Homo sapiens: one gene and its partners. The protein of the gene in region 2 purifies or fractionates together with the protein of the main gene of each other region. This does not show direct contact. Each region holds a gene or a part of one and is shown on either strand. Other genes may lie near its edges.

What was found.
Region 1: the proteins of TNNT3 (region 2) and YTHDC2 purify together in Homo sapiens (affinity purification with mass spectrometry; one large-scale study listed by BioGRID and IntAct). This does not show direct contact.
Region 3: the proteins of TNNT3 (region 2) and FGFBP2 purify together in Homo sapiens (co-immunoprecipitation; one large-scale study listed by IntAct). This does not show direct contact.
Region 4: the proteins of TNNT3 (region 2) and TXLNG purify together in Homo sapiens (affinity purification with mass spectrometry; one large-scale study listed by BioGRID and IntAct). This does not show direct contact.

What each region holds. Positions count from the first base shown.
Region 1 is NC_000005.10:113,564,381-113,570,199, reverse strand, and holds part of YTHDC2 (3'-5' RNA helicase YTHDC2), read right to left. Parts: intron 4,308-5,819; coding exon 4,181-4,307; intron 3,109-4,180; coding exon 2,903-3,108; intron 2,547-2,902; coding exon 2,351-2,546; intron 1-2,350. UniProt on the Homo sapiens protein: 3'-5' RNA helicase that plays a key role in the male and female germline by promoting transition from mitotic to meiotic divisions in stem cells.
Region 2 is NC_000011.10:1,932,496-1,938,314, reverse strand, and holds part of TNNT3 (troponin T, fast skeletal muscle), read right to left. Parts: coding exon 5,801-5,819; intron 4,595-5,800; coding exon 4,478-4,594; intron 4,385-4,477; coding exon 4,307-4,384; intron 3,984-4,306; coding exon 3,870-3,983; intron 3,770-3,869; coding exon 3,660-3,769; intron 3,487-3,659; coding exon 3,396-3,486; intron 2,102-3,395; coding exon of another isoform or gene 2,061-2,101; intron 1,353-2,060; coding exon 1,312-1,352; intron 1-1,311. UniProt on the Homo sapiens protein: Troponin T is the tropomyosin-binding subunit of troponin, the thin filament regulatory complex which confers calcium-sensitivity to striated muscle actomyosin ATPase activity.
Region 3 is NC_000004.12:15,959,531-15,966,092, forward strand, and holds FGFBP2 (fibroblast growth factor-binding protein 2 precursor), read right to left. Parts: upstream 3,646-6,562; 5' UTR 3,600-3,645; coding exon 2,928-3,599; 3' UTR 2,908-2,927; intron 1,082-2,907; 3' UTR 715-1,081; downstream 1-714.
Region 4 is NC_000023.11:16,819,775-16,825,593, forward strand, and holds part of TXLNG (gamma-taxilin), read left to right. Parts: intron 1-389; coding exon 390-481; intron 482-5,819. UniProt on the Homo sapiens protein: May be involved in intracellular vesicle traffic. Inhibits ATF4-mediated transcription, possibly by dimerizing with ATF4 to form inactive dimers that cannot bind DNA. May be involved in regulating bone mass density through an ATF4-dependent pathway.

The DNA of each region.
Region 1 (5,819 bases), on a different chromosome or scaffold from region 2:
GCTTGAACCCAGGAGGCGGAGGTTACAGTGAGCTGAGATTGTGCCACTGCACTCCAGCCTGGGTGACAGAGCAAGACTCCATCTCAAAAAAATGAAATAAAATAAAATAAAGTAAAATAAAATACCTAGGAATACAGCTAATAAGGGAAGTGAAGGACCTCTTCAAGGAGAACTACGTATCACTGCTCAAAGAAATCAGAGAGGACATAAACAAATGGAAAAACGTTCCATGCTCATGGATAGGAACAATCAATATCATGAAAATGGCCATACTGCCCAGAGAAATTTACAGATTCAATGCTATTCCCATTATACTGACAGTCTTCACAGACTTAGAAGAAACGATTTCAAAATTCTTATGGAACCAAAAGAGACCATATAGCCAAGACAATCCTAAGCAAAAAGAACAAAGCTGAGGCATCACGCTACCCGACTTCAAGCTATACTACAGGGCTACAGTAGCCAAGACAGCATGGTACTGGTATAAGAACAAACACATAGAATGATGGAACAGAATAGAGAACTCAGAAATAAGACCACACACTTACAACCGTCTGATTTTTAACAAACCTGACAAAAACAAGCAATGAGGAAAGGACTCCTTATTTAACAAATGGTGCTGAAAGAACTGGTTAGCTATATGCAGAAAACTGAAACTGGGCCCCTTCCTAACACCTTCGACAAAAATTAACTCAAGATGGATTAAAGACTTAAATGTAAAACTCTAAACCATAAAAACCCTCGAAGAAAATCTAGGCAATACCATTCAGGACATAGGCACAGGCAAAGATTTCATGATAAAAACGCCAAAAGCAATTGCAGCAAAAGCAAAAATTGACAAATGGGATCTAATTAAACTAAAGTTTCTGCACAGCAAAAGAAACAACTATCATCAGAGGAAACAGACAACCTACAGAATGGGAGAAAATTTTTGCAATCTATCCATCTGACAAAGGTCTAATATCCAGAGTATACAAGGAACTTAAGCAAATTTACAAGAAAAAACAACCCATTAAAAAGTGGGCAAAGGACACGAACAGACACTTTTCAAAAGATGTACATGTGGCCAACAAACATATGAAAAAAAGCTCAACGTCACTGATCATTACTGGAATGCAATTCAAAACCACAATGAGATCAGAATTGCTATTATTAAAAAGTCAAAAAACAACATGCTGGTGAGGTTGTAGAGAAAAAGGAACACTTTTACACTACTGTGTAATTAAATTACACTAGTGTAAATTAATTCAACCACCATGGGAGACAGCATGGTGATTCTTCAAAGACCTGGAGGCAGAAATACCATTTCTGGGTAAATACCCAAAGGAATATAAATCATTCTATTATAAAGATAAGTACATTTGTATGTTCAGTGCAGCATTATTCACAATAGTAAAGACATGGAATCAACCCAAATGCCCATCAATGGTAGGCTAGATAAAGAAAATATGGTACATATACACCATGGGATACTATGCAGCCATAAAAAGGAATTAGATCATGTCCTTTGCAGGGACATGGCTGAAGTTGGAAGCCATTATCCTCAGCAAACTAATGCAGGAATGGAAAACCAAACACCGCATGTTCTCACTTATAAGTGGGAGCTGAATGATGAGAACACATGGACACAGACAGGGGAACAACACACACTGGGGCCTACTGGGGGTGTGTGGTAGAGGGTAGGGAGAACATCAGGAAGAATAGCTAATGGACACTGGGCTTGATAGATACATGATGTCATGATCTGTGCAGCAAACCACCATGGCACACCTTTACCTATGCAACAAAACTGCACATCTTGCACATGTACCCCTGAACTTAAAATAAAAGTTGAAGGAAAAAAATGCATTATGCCACTTCAATGTGATATACTATTTTGCAGTCATTAATATAAAATACTAAAAATATTTTTGATATCTCTGTAATGAAAATAACAAAATATAAAATAACAGTTTGGGTGAAATAATTTAAAATATGTAAACATGTAGAAAAAATATAACATTAAAAAGTGTTAGCATGAGAAAAATGAGATTATGGGTGGCTATTATTTCTTTTACAATTAACTTTATTTACGTTAAACTATCATTTAAATTCAAGTGGAAAAGAAAAATTTCTTCCCAACAGCAAGATTAATAAAAAATGCACAAATAAACATCAAGTTACCTTATAAATAAATTTCAAAAACAGTAGTATACCTTAGTATTTCCTAATTAGTCTTAGTACATCAAAATAGAGCTGCTACTATATAAATCTTTATAATTTCATTATTTGGTTTAGTAAAATAATTTCATTATTTGGTAAAAAAAAAAAATTCATTTCAAATAGATTTTTATTTCCTTAATACATTTACCTCTAAAGGATGAAGGTTCCTGAAGAGCATTACTTGCCAATCTAGCTGGTCCACAGAATACCAATATAGTGACAGGCGTCACTGCTGAACAACATCTAATATTAGCTATTCTATGGGCTCTGGTCATTTCATCATAAATAAGCCAATCTGTGGGCAGTGCCTTAATTGCTGCAGCTTGACCATTGGCTGGAGGAATCTATTAAGAAAATAAATTTTAAAAATTGTTAATTGTGTTTATCACCTAGTTTATTGGAAATACTTTTAAAATGTAAAGTCTCTCAATGAAATAGATGATGTATATTAGTACGTAAGCAAAAATTAAAACAAGTCATCGCTCATGTAGTTCGTACAAAAGTACTCATTACTTAACATGTTACCTTTTCCAACTCTAAAATTTATAAGTTTTGTTCCAATATTTAATGATATATATATATATATATATATAACTAATTAATTTCTTAAAGCAGGCAGGTATTTGGAGCATTTTTCATTGATAGTGAACTACCTAAATTAGTTTCACCTCAAAACCCAACAGCATTCAAAATCTTTTACCTTTTTATATTGAGGCTGACTGAGAACTGAAGCAGGATGAAATCGTACTTTTTTCTCCTTTGGCCCTGTCAACACTAGATTCTCTCTGTCCACGTGGACTAAATTAGGATACATGCCTGCCACCAATGCAGCTTTAACGACAGCCCAATTCTCAGAGTTTGTGTTAACGTCCCGAATGTCACCACCACCTCGTGCTCTAACAAAACCTAGAGGGGAAAAAAACCACACCAATTTTTCTATTGTGCAAAAGATACTTTTGTGTATTTTTTCCAAAAACTTGTACAACTCATGTAAATTTTGTGATATTCAAATTTCACGATAATTAATAGAATCTCCTCTGGAAAGTTGTTTAAAATATGAACCACCCCTCCCCACCCTAAAACAGATACAGAACCAACATTCTAGGGAAGTGTAGATCTGCTCAGGTTAGATTAAGTATAAGAATCACTTGGGGCTTAAATTTTTTTAGATCCACATTCTTGCAATAAAGTTCTTCATAATCTGCTGCCAGAAACAAACTAAATTCATAGCTGGAAACCCAAACCATTCTTCTGACTGTTATTAACAACATTTTGGTTATGATAGATACTAATTCTGTAGATGAAGTCAAGTAAATATATGGTAATTTTTGCTTGAGTTTCAAAAGTCCTTCATATTTCCTTATGTTCAAGTCAACTCTTAAGTCCTCTGGTTCATTCCTTATATTACTCTGGCACTTCAGCTAACCCATGAATCCAGGCTCTGGTACTATTCTTCTGACTACCACATCAATTTTTTTTTGCTACTCAAAAAGGCAATTCTAAAAGGTAATAGCAATACTAGCATCCTCTTCAAAAAAAAAAAAAAAAAAAGGTGACTTCAAGTATTACTAGCTGTTTTTGTGTTCCAAAAATATGAAGAGCAGCATTCATATCAATTTTTTAAAATTTCTATTTCACAGAACTAAATAAGTATTCATTAATGGTGATAAAAGAAAATAACTATAAGATCTAAATTGATCTCTGCCAACCAATACAAATTGTTCATTGCCAACAGTATCACAAGCATATAGATTCTGTCCCTAGATTTCTCAAATACACCTCCTGCAATAGCATTTTTTCATCAACAAGCAAAAGTTGAAGACATATCGAAGTCTACAAATCATGCATGAATATAAGATACACAACATGATAATGTCATAAAAATAATAGATGGCATCAGTTAACATAAGAAATACTATGAAATATGGGCAGGGTACTCTCAGTAACTTAAATAGGCTCTTTGAGGGAAAAACTTTACCTGATGCTCTAAGTTGACCAAGCAACTGTGTTCTCATGCCTATGATTATTTCCATAGTAGCCTGTGAAAGAAAATTCTTTTCACAAAAGGCTCGCTCCCACCCATCACTTCGTGCTTTTTGCCAGGCCTATAAAAAGAGAATAATTGCATAACAAGACACATTTACTAATCGCTTCTTAGTGAGGCAACAAGTAACTACAAATCACTACACGAATTCCTCGACGTGAATTTGCCTTATTCTAATTTTCTATAAAATCTAAGACTTTATGATCAAATAATATTTATCATTAATTTATACTCAAATGCTAAAAAAGCCATTGAGTTTATAAAATCGCAAAGAGAACTAAGTGTCAAGTAGCCTAAATGACTAACAATGTAAAAATATTTGCCTTCTCAGATGCATCTGCTAATTTTACTCTCTACAAAAGTATAGGTTTTCAACTAAGACTTCTTAACACTTATATCTAAGAATCGTGCCACTCTTGTCCTCCAAAAAATAATCTCTATGTCAACCCTGGACTCTACCTAAGAATGGAAAGTAGGATTTCTATAAATCATCTATATGCAGTATAAAAAGCTCTCCTCTGTGAATAGGTTCTCTTGCTTTGGTATATATATAACTAAAAGACTGAAGCAATAATTTATCCTCTCTGCTTTTGAAGGAGCTGGGGGAAAAGCAAAGAACAGATAGAAATTCTACTCTAAATCTCCCTCTACTTCTCACTCAACTATCTACTATAATATATGGTATTTAATATACCCAATTAATAACAATGAGTTATCCATTGATCAATACTCACAAAAGAGCTTGTAATTATTTTTGAAAATTATATGTGGTGAAAAAATCTTCTGTGTCTGAAAAAGAGTACTTTCTGCATAAACAAAGTTAGATTTTTAAAAAATATGGCTGGGCATGGTGGCTCACACATGGTAATCCCAGCACTTTGGGAGGCCAAAGCAGGCAGATCACTTGAGGTCAGAAGTTCGAGACCAGCCTGGCCCACATGGTGAAACCCTGTCTCTACTAAAAACACAAAAATTAGCTGGGCATGGTGGTGGGTGCCTGTAACCCCAGCTACTCGGGAGGCTGAGGCAGGAGAACTGCTTGAACCTGGGAGGCTGAGGTTGCAATGAGCCAAGACTGTGCCACTGCACTCCAGCCTGGGTGACAGAGCAAGACTGTCTCAAAAAACAACAACAAAAAAATGTATAGACACAGTCGACATTCAAGAAGATTTGAGAATAAATACAATGCCTATGTTTTCAAGAAATAACATATTCTTCCCCACATATCTGAAATTCTAAATTACATTTAATTTGTCTTCCCCAGGATCCTATTTTCCCCATCTTTTCTTTTCCATTTGCCTCTTTCCTCAACTTGCCATTACCATTATCTTAAAAGGTTTTTAAGTGATTTTTGTATTTTGCTTTACAAAATTAAGTTCTCAGCATAGTGTCTTGAGCAAACAAGAAAAAGGCTGAACTCTAAGAAAAATCGATAGATATTACATCAATATAATTTTCTTATAAGCTTTATTCTATGTACTTTAAATAGTATACAGTATTTCTTAACTGAAATTTTAGAACATTCCTTGCCCAAGACATGATTTAAAGAAACCTGGTAATAGAAGCATAAACA
Region 2 (5,819 bases):
AGCTTGCGGCCCACACCCAGCTTCAGTCCGGGCAGTGCCCACTCACCTGTGCCTGGCGGGCCTAGGTCGTTAGTGTGGTTAGGGGGCTGGCACGTGAGCCCGGGGCACCCTCCCTCTGTCCTCCTTTCTTTGCCTGAGGTACCACTGCAGACAGACCCCTGAGCTGGGGAAGACTGTCTTAGCAGATAATGATATAATCCTAGACGCTTGGCCTTGAAAGAGCTCATGCCCCTCCAGACGGTGGCCTCTGAGGGGCCCAGGAGCCTGCCCCATTTGTCTGAGGTCTTCATGTGGCCACGAGCCGGGAGGAGCTGGGTGCGGGTGAGGGGTGAAGGCGGGTGGAGGACAGGAGTGCTTCGGCCCGCGAGGCCGGCCCCATTCAGACGCGGCTGCTCAGCAGGACACCTGGCTGGCAAAGGCCGTGCCCTCACACACGTTCCTGGGCACTCTCGGCACATGCACACATGCACACACGCAGGCACATGCACACCACGCCGACTGCCCACCCTCAGAGGGGTCTGCAATGACCCCTGACGGCACAACAGGGAGGCCGTGAGGTCACGTGCACCACGGAGGAGCCCGCCCTGGGCGCCGCAGGGAAGCCAAGGCGACAGGAGGAGGGAGAAGAATCCCAGAAAACATCGAAACTCCAAGTAGCCCCCAAACACTGCGATCCTTGGGGAAATGGCACTGGCTGTGCAGCTGGGCTCCATGACAGGATCCCCAGCGTGGCATCGCCGGGGGCACCCTGGGTGCAGCCCCATGCAGGTGGTCGAGTAGCTGTGTCAAGGGATCCCACAGCCCCCAGGGACACGATTTTATGGATGAGGTTTCACCATCCTGAGGAGTCCATGATTTTGCCCAGCGTCACAGAGGGGCTGGTGATGAAGCCCTGACTGCTTAATTCCCTGTCCTAGGTCCCCTTGGAGGGTGGGACACTGGCGGGATACCCTGGGGCCCAGGTTGGCCACACCAAAGGCCCCCCGAGTAGCCCCTTCTAGGGGTCCCCTGGCTGCCCTCTCCCTGCAGCCAGTGCCAGACTCGGGGCGAGGGCGTGACAGGCAAGCCCCATTGGGATCCCTCCTCCTGACTCTGCCACCCCCCAGGGCTCCCCTGCGTGCAGGAGAGGGAGGAGGCTCCGGGTCCCTGGCCACAGGCCTGCGCATGCTGGCCTGGGTGGCCTGGCCGGGTTAGTCTCGTTACTGCCCTGCCGAGGCCAGCCACCACCGGCCCTTGTTAGGGACTGGCTACAGCGGCTGGCCCCAAGGGCCCCTGTGCCCAGTGCGGAGCGAGGACGGCAGGGCTACTCACTGCTTCTGGGCCTGGTCAATGCGGCTCCTGAGCGTGGTGATCTGTGAACAACATGAGTGACTCACTGCGACGACCCGAGGGCCAGGCCTGCGTGTACTGGGTGAAGGCCTGTCTCCACCGCAGGGTGGGCTGGGCTGCGCGACCCAGGGCTGCTGGGCCCCCATGAGGGCTCCTCGGCTCCCTTACTGTCTCCTGGCTCCTTGTGCAGGGGGACACCGTCCCGTGGCCCCTGGGCTCATGCCTGGACTTACTCTCGCCAGCCTGTACTGGCCTGGACTGCCACACACAGCAGCCCGTAGCTGGCCACTTACCTTCAGCCTGCGGCAGGATGTGGGGCGGGGGGTACGGAGCACGGATGGGGCTGGGGAGGGGTTGCAGGTGAGGCCTGCGGACCCCTCCTTCTCAGCTCCAGCTCCCTTCAGCCGCTGAGCTCAGAGCTCCGAACGGCCCTGCTGCTCCTGGGCCAGCCGCTCCCGCCCTCGTGCCTGTGCCCAGGGGCACTCTGTGGCCGCTGCTGGCTTGAGGCGGAGCTCCTGGGAAGGTGGGGGCCCTTCCTCGCTTGCCAACAGGGCAGCGGCCACTGGGAAGCCCCCGGCTGCAGGCACGAGGGGAGAGCGGGGGCAGGAGGAAGGCTCCAGGCCCCCTGCCGCCAGCATCCTGAGCGATCCAGGTTTTTGCCATGCGAGAGGTTCACCTCACCGTGCAACGCACACCCACGGGCCTGGCCCAGGGCGGACCCGGCTACTTACAACTTGGCCAGCATCTGCACTCTGGCCCGGACATTCATGATCTAGAAAGACCAAGATGGTTACAAGGCTGGATGGGCGGCTGGGGCATCGAGGCCCGGCTGTGGGCTAGCTTGGCCTGGTGATGGCCCTCCAGGCTCTGGAGCCCCTGGGGGCCCGCTGTGGCCGCATCTATCCAAAGCCAGTGGGTCCCTGATTCAGCTCTGGGAACACAGCATGGGAAGGACCTGGGTCCTGTGCCGTGAAGCCCGTCTCAGGGCCAGCCCCTCTGGGAGAGCCCCAAGGGTGAGGTCAGGGCTGTCCCTCATGCCTGGACCCCCTGGGGACAGCTCTGGGAGGGAGTGTAATCGCCCTGCCTCTGTCGGAGGGGAGCTCGTGGAAGCTCAGGTGGAACAGGTGGCCTGCCCAGAACCCCCGAGAAGGAGCTCGGATTTGCCCGGCTGGCTTGGACTGGTCGCCCCACACCTGCTGCACCTGGGTAGAGCACAAGCCCCGTGGGCACAGCCGCCCTCCCCTGGGGCCTCTGGCGGTGCTGGAGGGTGGACATCGTGGCCCTGATGGTGATGCTGGAGTGTCTGCATTTGCCCCGAGCACGTGGATCACCCATGGCTGCGCCCCTCACCCCTCGCCCCTGGAGCCCAAACGGGTGTTTGGGAGGGTGGGAAGCAGCTTGGCTTCCACCCTAGCTCCCACATTGTACCCCAGTCCCTGAGGCCGCCCGGGCAGGCTGCCTTCCCCAGTCCCAGCTTTGCCTGCGGTGATAGTGCCTGCATGGGATGGTGGCTCTGCTCCGTCCCAGACGGGCACAGTCCCAGGCCCCTTTTCCCAGCCACAGGGTGCAGTGTGTCACCCCTCTCTGTCTGCCCTGAGGAAGCAGGTGTCCGGGGCCCTGGTGGAAGCCAGAGTCTGGGTTTGTGGAGGAGGCTCTGTCGAAAGGACGCCCCACACCAGACGGACTCGGTGCCCCGGGGCCGAGCTGGGTGATGATGGGGACTTTCTATAAGCTTAAAGGGGTTCCGAAAATGAACCCTGAGTCCACTTGGCCATGGCTGCTCTGCCACGACAGTCCTTTTGGCAGGGGTAACCAAGGCCGCCCAAAGGGGCCAGGTTCATCGCTCAGGGCGCTGCATGGCCAGCCAGGAGGACGGGCTCTGGCCACAGTCCCCAGCAGGAAAGCAGCCTCAGCCAGGGGTCCGTGGCAACAGCCTGTTTGGGCCTCTCAGGGTCCAGGTCCCTGGGGTGGGCAGGTCCAGAGTTTGGTAGGGACGCAGGGAGATGGCTGCTCTGCTGGTGGGTGAAAGCCGCTAGGGCCCCAGGGCCGGAGGTGCCGGGACTCACGTCATATTTCTGGCGTTTCAGCTTCTCCCCAAACTCGAACTTGTCAATCTCCAGCTGGTGCAGGGTCTCCCAGAGCTCCTTGGCCTTGTCCCTGGGGCAGAGGAAGTGGTGAGGCTTCGTTGAATAAGCCCCAAAGGCAGGGCCAGGCCCCTGGAGTCCTCCTGCAGCCACTGGGGAGCACGGTCCTTGGCAGCCTGAGGAGCAGTCGGCAGCTCCTGCAGGGGCCACCCCGTGGGGCTGAGCCCCACAACACCCACCCCTCACCTCAGTTTGTCTTCACCAAGGTGATCGATGTTGAGCGGCTTGCGTCTCTCAGCCAGAATCTTCTTCTTCATTTCCCGGGCTGTCTGCTTCTTGCCTCTCTTCTGGTCAGCCTGCAGCGGACAGGCCCAAAGAGAGGGGCCTGGTCTCAGGAGGGCACAGGGCGTAGCCCACACTGAAGGCTACCACCGTGCTCCCAGCAGCGGCACACACCTTGGCCAGGTAGCTGCTGTAGTTGGCTCCCATGGAAGACAGAGCTTTCTTCTTCTTCAGGTCGTCCTCTGCCCTCCTCTTGGCATCCTCCTCCTCCCTTCTGGCCTTTTCCTCCTGTGGAGACCCCATTCCCAAGATGCTCAGGGATGGAGAGAGGGCTATGCTTTCTGGGCAGGCTTTAGGGACCCACCCTGGGCTTAGAGCTGTCTGGAAGGGCCCACCCTGGGCTTAGAACTATCTGGAAGGAAGCTCCAGGTCTTGGCCAGGATTTGTTTTCTGGCAAGGGGTTCTGCAGGGCGCCGGGGCCTTAGCCAGTGGTTCTGATCATTGGCCAATGACAATGGGAACCCCGGGAGAAGGAAGGCCTCAGCCCCCTGCATTTCTCTGGGCCTGGGGCTCATTCTCTGATGAGGCAGCAGTGCGGATGGTGCCCTCACCGCCAGTCTGTTCTGGCGCTCCCTCTCCTTCTCTGCACGAATCCTCTGCTGCTCCGCTCTCTCTGCACGGCGCTTCTCCTGCAGCCAGAGAAGGGGGTCTGCTCAGCCCTGTCCCCGGCTCCTCCGAGGGAGTCCACCAGCCCCTGCTGCAACCTGAACTGCCCCACTCACGATTCTCTCTTTGAGAGCGACCAGCTCCTCCTCCTCCTTCTTCCGGGCTTCAAAGTGGCTGTCGATGAGGGCCTGGAGCTCCATTAGGTCTTTGTTCTGACGCTTCTTCTGGATGTCCTGTGGGCAGGGGCAGTGGGTGTGAGCCCCACCCCTCTCTCCAACCTCTGCCCTGCCTGGCCTGCCTTGCAGCAAGAGGTCCCTTCCTTTGCCCCAGCAGAGAAGCCCTGACTCCCTTGGCCACCATGAAAATGGCAAGTGGCAAGGAATGTTTTGCCTTCTCCACATTGCCATGGCTGCTATCCTCATAGGGGCCGAGGGTGGCCTGATTCCTGAGCCACACAGCAGGGATGGTGCCCAGCCATAAGGTCCTCAGCATCCTTAGGATGGACTGGCCCTGACTTGGCTCTGTCATCATCCTCAGAGATGCCCTGCATGGGCCTGGCAGAGAGAAGACTGCAGAGTGAGAGAAATTGTTGGATACATAGGTAGGCATGTGAACAGATGAGCTGATGGATGGGTGGATGAGTGAGAGAGGATGGAGACAGATGACTGGGTGGATAGATGGATGATTGGAGAAATGGATGGATGGATGAATGGATGGATAGGTAGATGGGTGGAGGAATGATTATGTGGATTAATGGTAGAGGATGCGTGGATGGTGGGTGAGTGGGTGGGTGGGTGGATGGGAGGATGAATGGGTGAATGGGTGGGTGGGTGGGAGGGTGGATGAGTGGATGGTTATGTGAGTGAGTGGATGATAGATGGATCGATGGATGGATGAGTAGATGAATGAGTGGTATGAATGGATGGATGGATGGGTGGATGGGTGGGTGAGCGAGTAGGTGAGTGGAGAGATGAGTGAGTGGATAGGTAGGTGAGTGTATGAATGGGTGGTTGGGTGGGTGGATGGATGGATGAATGGGTGAGTGGATACGTGGCTGGTTGGATGGATGGAAGTAAGGCAGGATGGATGGATGGATGGATGGATGGATGGGTAGGTGGGTGGTTGGGTGGATGAATGGATGGATAGATGGTTGAGTGGATGGGTGTGTGGGTGGGTGTATGAATGGATAGGTGAATGGGTAGGAGCTTACGTGGGTGGGTGGATGGATGGATAGAAGGATAGATGGAGGAGAAGGGAAGAGAGATGCTTATTCTTAGAGGGGTTTCCTCTGGCCCAGGAATAAGCTATGGTAGAATTGCCCAGACCCAGGAGGCCCCGGCTCTGGCTACTTGGGAGGAAGTGACCTTCTGAGGCCTAGAGCCCAAAAGCTGGGGTGTGGGGAAACCGTGGACATGTTAACCAGAGTCCTGTAAACTTACATCGAAGTCCACTTTCTCC
Region 3 (6,562 bases), on a different chromosome or scaffold from region 2:
GAGAGAGAGTAGACTATTAATGTGTTCTTAGGTAAGACAAATACGAAATTAAGAAGTGAGTCACTTTTCGCGTATGTCTAATAAAATCTAATTTTCTTCCTTTCCAACTCTGTTGATTAATTTAATTGCTGAGTGTACAGGGTTGTTCTTTTTCAGGTTCACTTCTCTATCTTTTTGGCTAGTTGCTATTGCTGCATGGTGGCTGTGCTGGGTTGAATAGTGCCCACCAAAAATTTATGTCCATTTGGAATCTGTGAATATGATCTTATTTGGGAATAGGGTGTTTGCAGACATGATGGAGTTAAGATAAGGTCTTTCTTGATTAGGATGGACCCTAATCCAATGGCTGGTGCCCTTATCAGGAGAGGGAAATTTGACACACACGCAAGGGAAAATTCCATGTGAAGACAGAGGCAGGGATTAGAGTGATATGTCTATAAGCCAAGGAATGTCAAGGATTCCAGCAACTTTAAGAAACTGACAGAGAGGCATTGAACAGATTTTCCCTGAGACCCTCCAGGAGAAACTAACTTTGGTGACATCTTGAGGCACTTCTTGCCTCCATCACTGTGAGAGAACACATTTCTGTTGCTTTAAGCCACCTAGTCTGTGTAATGCACGATGGCACCCTGAATAAAATAATAGTGACTTCATGGGTATACATGATCCCTATAGCATCTAGGTATCACGTTCATTAAGAAGACTAAAGTCGTATTTCTGAAATCATTCTTTTATTTTGCACACACATAGCTGCTATTTACTGAACACTGGAAATTCATGAATGCGTTACATATTTAAACTTTCATAGAAGGCTCAGATCAACAAAGCAAAACTTCTACAGATAATAAGTAGTTGTGTATGCTTGTCACTCTTGGGCCCATCAGCACCTGTTCCCTATCATATTGCTGAACTCTGCAAACTCCAGAAAGGAAGGTTTCTTTTCCAAACTTCAGAGAAGCTGCAGATCAAGAATTTGGGCCGTTGCATCTGATTAGAAACTCTCTTCTTCCAGTGTGAGAACGTTGGATTGAAAGCGGCATAATATAAAAAGAGATGGTTGTCTGTCAGGGAGAGGTCAGATCTAAAAAAAAAAAAAAAGAAAAAAAAAGGAAGGGATGAAAAATTCTTTCTTTGTTGTTATGGGTTGAATTGTGTGAATTGTGTCCCTCCCAAAACCTAAAAACCGTAGACTTAAGTCCTAACCTCCAGTACCTCAGGGAGCGTTTGTATTTAAAGATAGGGGCCATTAAAGAGGTGGTTAAGGTAAAATGGGGCTGTTTGGGTGGGACTTCATCCAGTGTGAATGGTATCCTAACAAAAAGAGATGAGGACACAGACCCACGCAGAGGAATGACAGAGAGAAGGCTGCCATCTATGAGTCAAGGAGAGAGTCCTCAGAAGACACCAATCCTGCTGACACCTTGATCTTGGAATTTCAGTCTCCAGAATTGTGAGAAAATATATTTCTGCTGTTTAAGCCACCCATTCTGTGGTATTTTGCTATGGCAGCCCCAGCAAGCTAATACAGTAGTCCTATGCAGCTTATCTGCAGGATCAAGATATTGTTTTGAGCTTTAGCGCCTGTATGCATCTGTATATACGCTGTACATCTGTCTGTGTAAATACGCATGGATGGATGTCTAAATGGGTACTCTTCTGTTAACATTGTTTATCTCTGTGTGGTGGGATTATGGATGAAGTTTTAAAATTCTTTGTATTTTTCTGTTGTGTTTGAATTTTTCAAATGATTTGTATGTCTTATTTGTAGAAAGACCAAAAAAATCACTTTAAAAAGAAAAAAAAAAGGACCTCCTCTCAATAGTAACTTTTTTTGGCTTAAGTGTCCCCTTTTCTCCTCTGGGACAGATCTGAAATCTTAAACAAGCAGAAAACCTCCAGCCCAGAACAGCAGACACCAAAACAACTTTGTTGTGAACCAACATTTCTTGCTGCCTGGGCGCTTGTAGAAAAAGCCTTATTTGTTTGGTGGTATTCGTTATCAAAGTGCTGTTTATCAGGAAATCTGCTTTGTTCCTATTTTTCTTACATAGATAATATGAAAAAAACTCAGAAACTCTCCTTTTAAACTCAAAGTGCACAAGTAAGACTAGAATCCCATGTAAATGAACTCCTTACTGGTGTGCAAAATTAATGAAAGCTGCTACATTTAAGGATAGAGATCAGTAATAAGCCTTATTTCCACAAGAAAAAGTTTGGTCTTTTAAAAGCAATACTTGGAGTTGATTAAATCTGTTATTATTAATTAGATTTTCTCCTCTGTGATGAACAAAAAACAATTAAAGGCTTTGAGAGCTGTGAGAAAGACTTTAAAGACTATTTGACTCAAACTTTCCTCAGTGCACAACACTCCCCACCCTAACTTGACTGTAGGAGAAAAAACTGAGAACAAGACGGGGTGTGGCGACACCTCCACCATGACATAGCACCTCGGCCACTAACAGCTGCAGCAAATGCTTGGTTCATTAGGAAACGTTACCCGGCAGAATTCCAAAGGCCTCGGTCTAACAGTGAGGTGGTTCCATCACAAGGAGATTCTCAACCTTGGCTGCACATTCAAATCACTTGGGGGAGAGTTTTAAAAGTCCACATTCCTGCGCTACTATGTTGGAGACATAGATGGAACGGTCTGGCGAGGGGCCTGGGCATCAGCATTTTTAGAGCTCCTTGTAGGTGATTCCTATGCAACTCCAGGGTCAAGTGCCACTCCGGATGAACTACCTCATCTACACTGCTCTGCAACAGACAGCCTCAAACCCACCCCCAAACACACGCTGAGACTCTGATGTGGTCGCAGCAGCTGTGAAAGTGCTAAGTGCCTCTCACGTAGTCTCTGTATATAAGTATATACACGTAGTCTCTGTATATGAGTAAAGGAAAGGGTATTACCTGTAGGGGTCTTTCACCTGTCACCCTCGGAAGAAGCTGATGAGAAAGGCGCACAGGGCCTGGAAGGGTTTCCAACAATGTTCCCAGGCCTTCTTCTTTGCTTCCTCATTCCCTCCGGGCCTGGGTCCAGGCTGGGTAGGTTTGGCTGTGGGTCGGGTGGTGGGTTTGGCTTTTCCCAGCTCTTCCATCGAGTCCTTTCCCAGCTGTGTTGCTTCTGTGAGTTTCACTGTGGCCTTGGGCCTCAGAGATGGCGTCCCAGCCTCAGGCTGCTGGTTGGGCTCTGGGCTGCCCTTGAGGCTGGAAGTCACCTGCTGCATATGGGCCTGGGGTCCAGCCTCCCTGCACACGGATGGCCTAAGCACCGGGGCCCCCTGGCACGCATGGTGAAGGCGCCTCAGCTCCTGCAGGGCTTGATTCCAGTAAGGTTTGGGGTCAGCAGCGAAAGCCTGGCACATGCTGGGCTGCCCCCTGTACTCACACCAGTAGGTCTGGTCTGTGTTGCGGCAGTCGACACGAAGCCAGACTTCTCCAGCACCTTGCCCCAAGCTGCTGGGACGCATAGTGCAGGAATCTCTCCCTCCAGTCTGGAAATGGAATTCCTCCCCAGTGCTTCCTTGCTTTTGCCTCGGGGCCTGACCCAAAGTCCCCAGGCAGGACAAGGTCACCAGCAGGAGGCAGGGGACGAACTTCATGGCGATACTCCGATAAACTTGCTTGCAACTCTGCACCAGGAGAGAGAACACAAGTGGGACGAGTCACCCTTTAAAGGGTGCTGCACAAAAGACTCTTTCTCTGCAAGGGTGGGGAGGATGTTTTGCAGCAAATGAGAAACATGCCCACAGACCTTAGACACGTAACACTTGGCAAGGGCAGAGCAGCCACCAGGGGCCGCCCACCACAAGCAAAGGGAATGGTTTTCCTGAGTGCCTCAGAGAGATCTGCCCCAGCCCTGTCACGCACAAAGCGCCACACACAGCTTTGGGGCTGAGGGTTTTACAGTTTTCCAACCACAGGGTGCTTGCTCTAAAATTGGCCCTTGTACGGGAACAGCCTTCTTTGTCAACATTTGGTATATGCCAAGGTGTGGCAGTGGTATTCTGGAAAGTGAGGTTTGCAGCTGGGAGTCTGGGCTGCCTCGAGGCTCCCTCCTGCTCCCTGGAATCCCCATCTTGGGGGACCATGGGTTTAGTTAATCCAAAGGAAGCCAGAATTTTATGAGCCTAAGTGTTATGAGATGGCCTAGCAAATGCAAAAAAGACTATGTGAGGTTGTGTGAGGATGTGTGTGCCAGAGGGACACAGAGACACTCCCCCTCCCACCCACCGAGCTGAGAGTCACCTGGTGTGGCCTCTGTGGGGCTGTCCCGCCATCACCGTGGCCACAGGCCACAGTGCTGCAATGTTCACTTCCCTTGTTATTGCATGCCTTACAATTGCACCAACTGAATGATGACGAGGAAGGCATGCAAATATATGTTCACAGTGGGATTCAGTCTATTTTAGACCATGAATTCTATTTCAAATTCAATTGAAATAACACAGTTTTAATTATATCACAGGAAAATATGATTTTAAATATTATTATTATTGTTCTACAATAGAAAAAAAATAAATTGAAAATAACTTTTGATTCTGTGTCAAGAATCATAGTTTGGTATGGTCATAACTGTCTTTTGATGACCCTTCCAGAGGGCACTGTGGAGTGGACTAAAGGTGGCAATTTGCTGTTAGGAATAGGGTTGACGGATGTTGGGGGACTAGTTTGAATGTGAGGGATTTATCTTGGCGATCCCACGTAGGGTAGTTGGTACCTGGCACAGCCTTCCTTCCACCTGGATATCCTGAGTCCTGAGAAGACCTAGTAGGGCTGGAACTAAAGCCAGGCTGAGCTTCGGCAGCCACTGTGTGTGTAGCAGTGAGAGCCTTCCAGAAGAGGGCATCACCCCAGGTGGGGAGCAGAGGAAGCTTCCAAGAAGTGGTGCCAAACCTTCAAGACAAGTCAGTCAATTTGTCAGGTTGAGAAAGGGTAAAGGGCAGGTGTTTTTTTTGTTTGTTTGTTTGTTTGTTTGTTTTGGCCTCATTCTGTCACCTAGACCGGATTGCACTGGTGTAATTATAGCTCACTGTAGCCTCCAACTCCTGGGCTCAATTACTTCTCCTGCCTCAGCCTCTCAAGTAACTGGGACTACAGGCATGGGCTGCCACACCCAGCTAAATTTTAAATTTAAAATTTTTAGGGACAGGGTCTCACTCTGTTGTCCAGGCCGATCTCACACTCCAGGCCTCAAGCAATCCTCCTGCTTCCTTGTCCTCTGGAGTCACTGGAATTACAGATGTGAACCACCACAACCAGCTAAAGGTAGGTTTTTTTTTTTTTTCACACAGTCTTACTTTGCCACCCAGGCTGGAGTGCAGTGGCACAATCTTGGCTCACTGCAACCTCCACCTCCCAGGTTCAAGCAATTGTCCTGCCTCAGCCACCTGAGTAGTTGGGATTACAGGCGCCTACCACCATGCCAGGCTAATTTTTGTGTTTTTAGTAGAGATGGGGTTTCACGACGTTGGCCAGGCTGGCCTCAAACTCCTAACAAGTGATCCGCCCACTTCAGCCTCCCTAAGTGCTGAGATTACAGGCACGAGCCACTGCGCCTGGCCAAGGGCAGATTCTTAAGGCAGGATAATGCTTCCTGTAAAGGAGTGATCCTGGAGTGCAGGTTTATGGACTGCTGAAATGTCAAGGGCAAGGAGGCAGTGGTGAGAATCAGGCTGGAGAGGTGACTTAGGGTGGGGTCCGCAGCCCCCGTACCAATCCACAGGGCCAGTTCTAAGACAGAGGCTTGCCCTTTGTGTGCTTCCAACTCAGGAGCCCCTGGAGTAAACAGCACTCCAACCCAGGCTCCATGTCGTGGCCACAGGAAGGCAGGTGTTCAGCTCCAACCTCCTTTCCCCCACCCACCACAGTGTTGCAGGGAACAGCTTGCTAGACCCATCTAGACACCCTGAGGTTATGGCCAGCCCTTTTCAATGCCCTAGTGAGGCTGAGTTTACCCTGCAATGGGAACTTATCATAAGAGCTCTAATCACGCTCTTCCTCTTTTCGCTTTTGGGACAAGCCAAACCTCAAGACCTTTGCACTAGTGCCCACTGCCTGAAAATCTTTTCCTTGAACATCGCATGGCTGCCTTCTCCCTGCCACCTTCACAGAGGCCTTCCCTCGCTATACAATGTAAAAGAGCTCTTCTGTTCCTCTATCACTTCATCCTGCTTTAATCCTCTTGAAGGCAGTGATTTCTCTCTTTTTTTTTGAGACGGAGTTTTGCTCTGTCACCCAGGCTGGAGTGCAATGGCGTGAACTTGGCTCACTGCAACCTCCGCCTCCTGGGTTCAAGCAATTCTCCTGTCTCAGCCTCCCGAGTAGCTGGGACTATAGGCACATGCCACCACATCTGGCTAATTTTTGTATTTTTAGTAGAGACAAGGTTTCACCATATTGGTCAGGCTGGTCTTGAACTCCTGACCTCGGATTATCCACCTGCCTTGGCCTCCCAAAGTGCTGGGATTACAGGTGTGAGCCACCATGCTCAGCCCAATTTCTCTTCTTTCTTATTTGCTTGTTCATCTTTTAAGTGTGGAGTGTCATGATCAGATTTGCACTG
Region 4 (5,819 bases), on a different chromosome or scaffold from region 2:
CCCTTTGAACTTGCTTCTATATTCGAACTTGGTTAGGAGGAAGCTTTAAAAAAAATTCCATGCCCTTTGTAACTTGCCCTTTGTCTTAACTTGGACATCAGTGATTAGGCAAGGAAATTTATAAGCTTTTAACAAGAGTTCTTATAAATAGCTCGCAGTGTTAGTGAATGAGTTAAGAAATTTGGGGTGGGTATGGGGAGGGGAGCGAGGCCTGCTAATCCAGAATTTAAAAATTGCCTTTTTCATTGAGCTGGTAAATCTCTTATTTATAATCATAGGTGTAAATTAGTTTACTCTGGATGTCAGAGCACGGGAATTGTTAGTAGAATTTACAGGTTAGATTTGATCTCATTCTTCTGGGACTTATTTCTTTTCTTGTTAACCATCAGGAAAAGAAGTTTTATTACTGATGCAAGCCCTAAACACCCTTTCAACCCCAGAGGAGAAGCTGGCAGCTCTCTGTAAGAAATATGCTGATCTTGTGAGTATTAAGCCAAGGATGTGAGAGCCATATAAAATATAACAAAATGTGTGTGTGCTTGATAAGTTTCTTAAAGTACAAATTTGATATGGCCTTAAATGTAAAATTATATTTTATTCTGAAATTGAAGAAGAGAATCTGTTTTGTTGGGGCTTTTTATTGGTTGTATAGTTTCATTTTATGAGGTAATATATAGGGAACATTGTAATACTAAGATGTGGCATAGATTTTCTAAAACTCAGTTTTAGAGTCTAAGTCAGCCTTTCCATTGCTATGTTGTGATGCCTTAGGTGCCACTCAGTTGGGGTGTAGTGGTTCCTGTCTTAAACTTTTCCTAAGGGAATTCTAGAGATTGAGGACTGTTTTGATTGAGATTGTGAGTTACATGAAATCATCTGCTAAAACAATACTTTGTCTCAGAAATACTTCTTTAGCATCTACTATGTGTCAAGCATCCTTTTTTCCATTTTCTAGAAACAGTGACCTTATCAAAGAGTTTGTTCTCAGCTATATTATTTTATTTTATTTTTTTGAGACGGAGTCTCGCCTGTGGTCCAGGCTAGAGTGCAGTGGTGTGATCTCAGCAGACTGCAAGCTCCACCTCCCGGGTTCACGCCATTCTCCTGCCTCAACCTCCTGAGTAGCTGGGACTACATGTGCTCGCCACCACGCCTGGCTAGTTTTTTTAATTTTTTAGTAGAGATGGGGTTTCACCGTGTTAGCCAGGATGGTCTTGATCTCCTGACCTCGTGATCTGCCCGCCTCGGCCTCCCAAAGTGCTGGGATTACAGGCATGAGTCACCGCGCCCGTCCATTCTCAGCTATATTACAGGTATTACAGGTAGCATTAATTCTCTTTTTGGAGTTTCTTTCTTTCTTTCTTTCTTTTTTTTTTTTTTTTTTGAGACGGAGTCTCGCTCCGTCACCCAGGCTGGATTTCAGTGGTGCGATCTTGGGTCACTGCATCCTCCGCCTCCCGGGTTCAAGCTATTCTCCTGCCTCAGCCTCCTGAGTAGTTGGGACTACAGGCGCGTGCCACCACGCCTGGCTAATTTTTTGTATTTTTAGTAGAGATGGGTTTCACCGTGTTAGCCAGGATGCTCTCCATCTCCTGAACTTGTGATCCGCCCGCCTTGGCCTCCCAAAGTTCTGGCATTACAGGCATGAGCCACTGTGCCTGGCCCGTGAGGGCAGTTTCAACTTGGAAACCCTGCCATCCTATTTGAATTGAAGAATGGGAAAATCATAGAACCCTTTAAAGGAATGGTTGCGGGAAGCTTTTAGAATAAGTGGTTCTAATATAAATGCTAAAATTATTGCCTTTTGTGACATACTTAGGTGAATTATCATGTACAATTTATATGCATCTTCATCTGTTAAAACAGTTAATTCCATATCATAAGCCATTACTTTTTTTTAAATCAATGATCAGCTCTAAAAAAATGAATTCTGAGGCTGGGCGCGGTGGCTCACGCCTGTAATCCCAGCACTTTGGGAGGCCAAGGTGGGCGGATCACGAGGTCAGGAGATCGAGACCATCCTGGCTAACACGGTGAAACCCTGTCTCTACTAAAAATACAAAAAAAAAATTAGCCTGGCATGGTGGCAGGCGCCTGTAGTCCCAGCTACTCGGGAGGCTGAGGCAGGAGAATGGCATGAACCCGGGAGGCAGAGCTTGCAGTGAGCCGAGATCGTGCCACTGCACTCCAGCCTGGGCAACGGAGCGAGACTCCATCTCAAAAAAATAAAAAATAAAAAAACTGAATTCTGTTAGTTTATTGCCTCAAGAATGACAGTTACAGGCCAGGCATAGTGGCTCACGCCTGTAATCCCAGCACTTTGGGAGGCCGAGGTGGGTGGATCACGAGGTCAGGAGATCAAGACCATCCTGGCTAACACGGTGAAACCCCGTCTTTACTAAAAATACAAAAAAAAATTAGCCGGGTGTGGTGGCGGGTGCATGTAGTCCCAGCTACTCGGGAGGCTGAGGCAGGAGAATGGCGTGAACCCGGGAGGCGGAGCTTGCAGTGAACTGAGATTGCGCCACTGCACTCCAGCCTGGACGACAGAGTGAGACTCTGACTCAAAAAAAAAAAAAATGACAGTTACTTTCCCTTAGTTTATGAAGTGGTCCAGGTATACCTCAGTTAGCTGGCATTCAGCAGCTTGGCACCTTTCACTATTTGTAGCAACAGGACGCCCTGTGCATCAGTGAAAATGTCCCAGAGCAGTCACAAATGCAAAGATGGCCGAAAACACAGCGTGGTTGGATTGATGGCTTCAGGAAAGGAATGCTTCCATTGGCTGTGGAAGCCAGTCCCCCTTGGTGCCTTTCACATGGGGAGAATCATGCAAGAAATGGCGGAAAAAGAAGAAAGACAAGAACAGAAAAGGGAAAAGAAAAAATGGAGAAAAGAGTAAAAACCAGAAAAAGCAGTGTCGAAGGTTAGCTACCCAACCCAGTGATGTGACAATGACAGACAGCCATGAATTGGTTAGAAGAGAGAACAAACAGTGATCTGGGGTGGTTGTTCTCAGACTCACACCGATCATTGAACTTGTGGTTAAAATGCACATTCTGATTCACTAGGCCTTGGTTGGGGCCTGAGGATCTGCATTTTAACAAATGCCCGGGCAACAGTGATGATGCTGCCAGACCTTGGATCACACTTGAAGTAGCAGGGGTCTAGGGTGTTTTTGTTTGTGACTTTTGGTTTTATTGTTTTGATTGTGGATAAGGTTATTGCTAAGCACCAGCAGTAATGACTGTGTTCATTTCAGGATGTGACACATTGAAGACTTGCCTAGTGAGTAATCTCTCTTTTATACAGATTTGTGCCAAAAATTTGAAAGACAAAATGTGTATTGTTTCCAGAAAATGTTCTAAAGCTTGATTTCTTGAAGCAACACATATTTCACTTAAAAGGTAGATATAGGCCGGGCGTATAATCCCAGCACTTTGGGAGGCTGAGGCAGGCGGATCACCTGAGGTCGGGAGTTCGAGACCAGCCTTACCAACATGGAGAAACCCCGTCTCTACTAAAAATACAAAATTTGCTGGGCGTGGTGGCGCATACCTGTAATCCCAGCTACTCAGGAGGCTGAGGCAGGAGAATCACTTGAACCTGGGAAGCAGAGGTTGTGGTGAGCCGAGATCGTGCCATTACACTCCAGACTAGGCAACAAGAGTGAAACTCTGTCTCAAAAAAAAAAAAAAAAAAAAAAAAAAGTGGAGTATATATATGTGAGGTCACCAAGGGAGTCACAGCCTTTTCCCAAGGATTATTCTGAAAAGTTCCCTTCCCTTTTGCCATCACTGTCTTCTGCCCGTTTATGACATATATCGTCTGATGTCATTGTGCTTGTTGCACTGACATGCATAACTGTTTTGTGGAGCAGTTGGAATGGATTTCTGTGCACTGTAACTGGGATTGTCCATTGGAGAGACCCTGTGGCCAACATGTTCACCAGATCACATGGATTCATGAAATTGTAGCATTTTGCTTTTAGCTGTGGATACCATTAACATGATCCTTAAGTACTTTATAATGCTATTCTTTCCCATCCTGTAGTCAGTTTGTACAGATTATTATAGCATAATAATCTTAATATATGCTTGGGGTAGGTTCCATTCTCCTTACTCTTTTCTTCTGAAGTATCTTGGCTATTCTTGGCCCTTTACTCTCTATAGATTTTAGATTCAATTTAGTAGTTCCGTGTGTTGGGGGGCACTATTTGGGATTTCAAAGAGCATTTCACAGAATCTGTAGATACATTTGGGGGAGAATTGCCATCCTCATGATATTAATGTAACTTAAAAAATGGTTATCCTGGCCAGATATGGTAGCTCAGCCCTGTAGCATCTGCACTTCAGGAGGCTGAAGCAGGATTGCTTACAATCAGGAGTTCAAGACCAGCCTGGGCAACGTCGCAAGACCCTGTACACACACACACACGCACACACGCCTGTAGTCTCAGCTACTTGGGAGGCTGAAGTGGTAGGATTGCTTGAGCCCAGGAATTGGAGGCTGCAGTGAGTTCGTGCCACATGGCAACCCAGCCTGGGCGACAGTGCAAGATGCTATCTCCAAAAAAAAAAAAAAGTTATCCTTTTGAGGAAAAAGTAAAATTAGATCCTTACACACCAGAGGCAACAATCAATTCCAAATAGATTAAAGGCTTAAATGTCAAAAATTAAGCTTTGAAATTTGTAGATATTATTTTGATTTATCAATAGATAAATATTTTTCAAACCTTGAGTTTAGGAAATATTTCTTATAGCACAAAAAGCACTGTCAGAGGAAAGATTGTACAAATTTGCTTTATTGAAATTAAGAACTTTGTTTTCGTCAAAAGATGCCCTGAAAAAAAGTGAGAAGATGGCCAAGCGCGGTGGCTCACACCTGTAATCCCAGCACTTTGGGAGCCTGAGGCAGGCGGATCACGAGGTCAGGAATTCAAGACCAGCCTGTCCAATATGGTGAAAGCCCGTCTCTACTAAAAAAATAAAAAAAAAAAAATTAGCCGGGCATGGTGTTTGCGCGCCTGTAGTTCCAGCTACTCAGGAGGTTGAGGCAGGAGAATCGCTTGAACTGGGGAGGCGGAAGTTGCAGTGAGCCAAGATCGCACCACTGCATTCCAGCCTGGGCAGCAGAGTGAGACTTCATCTCAGAAAAAAAAAAAAAGTGAGACGACATTACAAACTGGGGAGAACATATTTCCAACAAATATAACCAGCAGGCGATTTAGTATCAAGAATATCTAAAGAACACTAATGTGAAAAGGACAAATAGCCCTATGGAAAGCTGGATGAGAGACATGAAAGGGACATTTCATAGAAGTGGAAAAACAAAGATACGAAGATACCTTAACATAAAGGTCCATAAACATTCAAAGAGATGTTCCACCTGATAAGTGATTAGGGAAATGCAAATTAGGACCACAGTGAGATGCCATTTTACGTCTATTGTAGTGGCATAAATGAAGAAATCTGATCATTTTGGAGAGGATGTGGATCTACGTGGTCTCTTATATATTGCTGTTGGGAATATCAATTCACCATTGTCATGTGAAATCAAACATTTAGAAATCATTGCCCAGCAACCTCATTTCTGATGTTTGCACAGAGGAGAAATTCCTGACACGTGTATACCAGGAAACACATGAGAATGTTCATACCACTGTGAGTAATAACAAAACCTAGAGACAGCCCAGATGCCTGTTGATGCAAGAAGATGGATTAATAAAGAGTTTTGTGTGTATGTGTGGTGTGTTTTTATTTTTTATCTACTTGTTTGTTTATTTTTCAGACAGGGTCTCACTCTACCACCCAGGCTGG